Linked DNA regions of Homo sapiens. The protein of the gene in region 1 interacts with the protein of each later gene in a pairwise test. Each region holds a gene or a part of one and is shown on either strand. Other genes may lie near its edges.

Region 1 (3,500 bases):
AGAGGCTATCATGGTATTGGTGCTTGGCCACAAAGTCTTAACTTGCCATGTTAGTCACCCACTAGGTGCATTGCTCAGTTATGCTGTAGGCTTTTTTCCCCCATAGGGTTTTGAAAAGAGTAAAAAAATGTGGAGAATGGGGCCTCTATTGATTATTCAATGAGTATTCAGTGCTGGCTTGTGTAAAAGTGCACAGTTGTGCACACTATAGAAAATAGTCTTTGACTATGACGAGTTTACTATGGCTACACAAAGTTTGTGGGGTTTTTTGTTGTTGTTTTTTGTTTTTTTGAGACAGGGTCTTGCTCTGTTGCCCACGCTGGAGTGCAGCGGCGTGATCTCTGCTCACTGCAACCTCCACCTCCTAGGTTCAAGTGATTCTCCTGTCTCAGCCTTCTGAGTAGCTGGGATTCTAGGTATGCACTACCACACCCAGGTAATTTTTGTAATTTTGTATTTTTGAAACCCCAGTATGGGGTTTCGCCGTGTTGGCCAGGCTGGTCTTGAACCCCTGACCTCAGGTGATCCACCCGCCTTGGCCTCCCAAAGTGCTGGAATTACAGGCATGAGGCACTGCGCCTGGCATTACACAAAGTGGTGGTGGTGGTGTTGGTGTTTGAGATGGAGACTTGCTCTGTTGCCCAGGTTGGAGTGCAGTGGCGTGATCTCAGCCCTCTGCAACCTCCGCCTTCTGGGTTCAAGCAATTCTCCTGCCTCAGCCTCCCAAGTAGCTGGGATTACAGGTGCCCGCCACCACGCCCGGCTAATTTTTTTGTATTTTTAGTAGAGATGGGGTTTCACCATGTTGGCCAGGCTGGTTTCGAATTCCTGACCTCAAGTGATCCACCCGCCTTGGCCTCCCAAAGTGCTAGGATTACAGGCATGAGCCACTGCGCCCGGCCTACACAAAGTTTTTTAACCCACCAATCCCTTTAACGTTTTTGTTTAGAATAGTCTGTGCAACAAACAGTTTTGATAGAAGTCTTGGAACAGCGCAGTCCAATATTTTCTGATTTTGGCTTATTCAATTGTAGGGAAACAAATATTTAAATCTGTATAGTGTTAGTCGTCTTTTTGCATTTTTCTATTTCTATCTACCGTCTTTTTCATAAGGACAAGGGAATATGTTATCTTAAATGTCCTTTAAAATTTGCATGGCATTGGGAAAGAGTGACTTAATCTGTTAAAAAACTGGTAACAATGCCATTTGTCACCATTATAGAATTTCGATTATTCATGTAATATTGAATAGTGTACTGACATGTCTGCGTGTTTTCATTACCCCTCTTGTTTTCGAAGTTGGAGTGCTTAGTGCAGTTGGTGAGAGCGGGAGCCACACTCAACGTCTCCACCACACGGTACGCGCAGACGCCAGCCCACATTGCAGCCTTTGGGGGACATCCTCAGTGCCTGGTCTGGCTGATTCAAGCAGGAGCCAACATTAACAAACCGGTAAGAGTGCTGGTGATGGACTTGGTTTGCTTTTGCTTTTTCTTTTTGCAGTTATAATTATACACGGTATTGCTTTAAATCGAGGCCTTAATTAGAGTTTGATATCTTTACCTGAGGGCAGACTGGAATTTATGTTTCTTCAGTTGTTTGTGGAGGATAGTAGGCCCTTTCCATAGGAATGCTTTCTGTTCATAGAGTGCTTTCACCTGTTGTGTGATAAACTGATCCAGGGTGATGTGCCCAAGGTTATAGCTGGTAATTAAAGGAGCCTGGCCTTGAGCCCAGGTTTCCTGGCTTTCTACTCATAGCTGCCTTAGCCTCATTTCCACAGATAATTATGAAAACATTTTCATCCTGGGAAAAGCATGGCTATTAAGTCAGCTCCAAAGTGAGCTTCAGATACAAGTTGATGCCTTGATGCAGATAAGTGCTAAGTATCATTTACTAAGTGGGAAGAGTAAGTGACTTGAGGACTTGGTATTTAAACATACTGACAGGAACATAATCGTGCCAGATTTTTCTTCATGGTGTGTTTTCAGTATCATTTCACCTAAACCAAACACACACGCATTCAGATTGTTAGGTACTTAGTTGTGTGAGACAAGCAGCATCTAATAACCATTAGGTTGTCTGACTGGGAGCAGTCCCTAGACTCAGCGTCCTTTGCTGCAGATGGATTAGTCCTTAGACTAATTGATAATTTTCATCTCTTAAGACCTGGGCATGGGCTCTGGGAGCTGGTTTTTATGCCTTTTTTACTCCTATCTTTAAATGCTTTATAGTCATCAAGGTCTTGGATGCAAAGTCGTCTTTCTACTTTTCTTTCCCAAGATTCAGTCCTTCATGATAACCAGGCATAAGGTTGTTGCTAGTCCCTCTTCTAAAAACCCAGCTACCCACCTGAGCAGTAAGTAATTGAGAAAGAAGGTGTTTTTAGCCATGATTTAAAACAAGGATCAATGGGAAAGTGGGGTAAGTTATAAGGCAGTTTGTCCCCTTAAAAGATGTGAAGTAGAAAAGAAAATGGAAGGTGGCCAAGAGTTGAGGCCTGTTTGTTACTAAACTGAAATGTGGGATATGGGACAAGTTTTAAGGTTGTGCTGCCACTTCTCTCCTTCCATCTCCACACGTGTGCCTTTACATAATGTATATTTCTCTGCTGCTCTGTTGCTTGTCTTCATAAATTCGAGAGTTATGAATTACCTACTCAATACCCTTATGTGCTGGGCAGCGCCTTGTGTTTTTCCTTCTTCCCTACCCCTGTCCCCTGGTAGAAAGGGCAGTGTGGGCTTGATTCCTTGGGCAAGTCATTAACTTTGTGGCTCAATCTCTTTATCAGTAAAATACAGTTAATAATTCCATGAATGGCAGTAATTAATAGTATGGAATTTAAGTATATCATTTTTGTAGGTTAATTTTCATCAAATTGTTACATAGCATCTTATTTAGAGAGGACTAGAGAAATTGTCTAACACTGCTTTCCAGACCTTTTTAAATCAAGAAGCCCCCTTTTCAAAGTGTCTTATGGCAGTTCAGTATTTTCAGTAGATAAAGGGAGTGAGGCAGAAAGTGTGCTGCTGGGTCTCCCACCTTCCTCTCAGATGCCTCTAGATAACACCTCCTGGAAACTTCTACCGCACTCTGCTTCTTCCCAGGCAGGATCCTAAAATCTTTTTCTTTTCAGCCCTCCCTGTATTTGAAGTATCCGGGTAGACATTTCCAAGTCCTCACATGTGCCTAGTGCATATCATTTGGCATTGTAAAGCATCCTGGAATTTCTCCTTAGTGTATCTTAGGTAGTTGTGGTCTGCTGGCATGTGGAGTTTACATCCGAATCTGAGGCATCATCTCACTCTATTATGTAGTGGGTGAATTTCAACACCTCTTGTTATGGGCACCCAGTGACTCTAGAGGACACAATAGCCCTTTTGTTAGCTCCCCACCCCGCCTACCTGCTGACTCATCTCCAGGTAGACAGTTTCTCTCATTTCTCATATAAACTCAGGATGCCAAATCCAATCCAGGTTTTTCTCCTTTGTTGTGTCCAT
Region 2 (2,427 bases), on another chromosome or scaffold:
TTTAAATTATACTGCGGCCGAAAATTTGTTTCATAAATTTTGATATAAATACTAATTACACTCTCTCGGAGAGCCAGCAGGGTAGCATTCATTTATCACGTTTATACGACCTGCAGTGACAGAAAGGGAAGGCAAGGGAGACTGGAGAGCTTTTCTGGAGACCCTTTAAGACTGGCAGAAGAGGCAGCAGGTTGCTGGTGGGTGAAGAAGAAATTCCTACCACAATCACGGAGATTTAAGAATCTTTAATAAGGTACGAAAGGTTACCAAACAGTTCTGGAAACTAAAGTGTACATACGAGTTCTTCTAGCCATAAATATTGAAGAGCTGTAACATGGATAAACCGGCCCTTTACATGCGGATAAATATGGAAACTAGGAATTATATACATTATGTGGTTGTATCTTTTGCCAAAAGTAACGGACAGTTATAGTTTATATCTTTTTTAATATCACTTTACATAAACAAATGGAACAGTTTGACACGCAGATCCAGGCTCGTACTATACGAATTCTTGACAGGACATGAAACAACATTTTACTGCACTAAAGTACTTAGACTTTGGGACGAAATGTTTGCACTTTATACAAAAAAAGCACATTAATACCAATAATATTGGGTTAGGTCGACGTGGAGACTGTAATCGTACAAAGTAATTCACATTTTGGTACACATTTACTAGAACATTCTTGCCATTCAGTACAAACAGTTGGCTTTCGGCCGCCCACCCCTCCCCCTCCCCCTCCCCCCGCCCATCCGGTCCCTCCCCCCTCCCCCAATGCAAAGACCACAACGCCACAATCCCACCCACCCGCTCCAACCGAGATATAACTATTTACAGAATTCAACAGTACAGTTTTAAGCTAATAATTCTGTATTTACAAGAAAACAAAGAAAAAAAGAAGCCGAAGCCCCAGAGAGCCCGTACCAATTCGACAAGAAACTGGCCCTCGGGGTTGGCGGCATTTGGTCAGGTGGCCTCCTCCCCCTCGACCCCCTACCGCACCTTGGGTACCAAGCCTTTGCCAAAAAAAGAAAAATAATGAAAGCGAAAGGAAATTTTTAAAAGGTTGATGCTTCCTCTCTTACTCGTCCTGGGTCTATTGGCAGATTTTTTAAAAAAGGATTGCGGGGTCTGTGTGGGGGTTGTTTTGATTCGCAGGGTTCTTTCAGTAATGTTGTGTATACGTGTGTGATCAGTCTCTTAAATAGGGTTTTGTTCGATGTTTTGTTTCTGATTTTAAACGTACCATTCGTTAAAATTGGAAGAGAGCGCACTGTGGCCGGCTGTGTGGTGGACTGCGGAGGAGGAGGGCGATAAGGAGCTTGTGGTCGGGTTGTCTGTGGAGGGAGACACGATGGTGGGAGGCGTGGAGGATTCGTAGCCAGAGCTGGCGGCCGGCGAAGGCTGCGAGCCCTGCGAGGAGGATTCGTGGACCTGCAGGAATAAAGTCGCGTTTTTACGGACATAAAGAGCCAGTGCGGCGGCCGACTAGAGAGGCGAAGGCCGCGAGTGCCCTTCCTCCTGGACCCCTTGGAGCCCCCTGAACACAGGTGAGGCCCGATCAGCGGGACTTTGGGCTTGGTTTCTCTGCACAGGCCTGCAGAAACCGTGCTCCTGGGAAAGTCAGGGTCCCCAAGACTCACAAAAGAAAAATAGGTCTGGGAAGAGGGAGACTGGATATGAGGCCAGAGACTGCACTTTCTTTCCCTGAACTTTGCTTGTCCATGTTTAGGTGAGCCAGAGCTCAGGCCTGGGCGCAGGAGTCCAATTCTTGCGTCTCACTGGCAGCTGCAAGGGCAGCAGTTTCCGCAGCGTCAACCCCCTGCAAAAGCCCTAGCTCTGGGCCAAATTCAGTGGCGGCCTTTGCTCATACTCGCCTCTTTTAACTTTTATTATTAAACCAAAAATTTAAAACGGCCTTGGACACTCCCATCCCCTTTTCCAGGTCCCGCCCTACCTTCTCTGCCCAGTTCCACTGAGTGGAACCTTTGCCTTCCCGCTTCCTCTGGCTCCCGCCACCGCCTGTCTGCCACTCGCCGCCCGACCCCAAGCCGAGAGCCAAGAGAGCTCCTGCCTCAAAGGGGGCGACGAGAGTGCGGCGATTACCTTCATGTGTTTGCGCAGCGAACTGGGATGCGTGTAGGACTTGTCGCACATCTTGCAAAGATAGGGCTTGTCGCTCGTGTGCACGTGCATGTGCTTCTTGCGGTCGCTGCTGTTAGCGAAGCGCCGGTCACAGCCCTCAAACTCGCACTTGAAGGGCTTCTCCCCTGGTGCCAAAGTAGAATGAGAGGGGTCTAATTAGAAAAAAATACCGCGGCCGTTTTTCAAAAACTAAACAAATAGAAAAAAAATAAAACAAAAAGCCAGCAGCCCAGGATTAGCACTTTGCAAGCTTAAAAACCCGGAACGTCAATAAATTC

What was found.
Region 2: the proteins of ANKRD10 (region 1) and ZIC1 interact in binary tests that used the Homo sapiens proteins (3 or more experiments, as listed by UniProt).

Annotation. Positions count from the first base shown.
Region 1 is NC_000013.11:110,908,570-110,912,069, reverse strand, and holds part of ANKRD10 (ankyrin repeat domain-containing protein 10), read left to right. Parts: intron 1-1,299; coding exon 1,300-1,452; intron 1,453-3,500.
Region 2 is NC_000003.12:147,412,365-147,414,791, reverse strand, and holds part of ZIC1 (zinc finger protein ZIC 1), read right to left. Parts: intron 2,275-2,427; coding exon 2,111-2,274; intron 1,439-2,110; coding exon 1,241-1,438; 3' UTR 1-1,240. UniProt on the Homo sapiens protein: Acts as a transcriptional activator. Involved in neurogenesis. Plays important roles in the early stage of organogenesis of the CNS, as well as during dorsal spinal cord development and maturation of the cerebellum.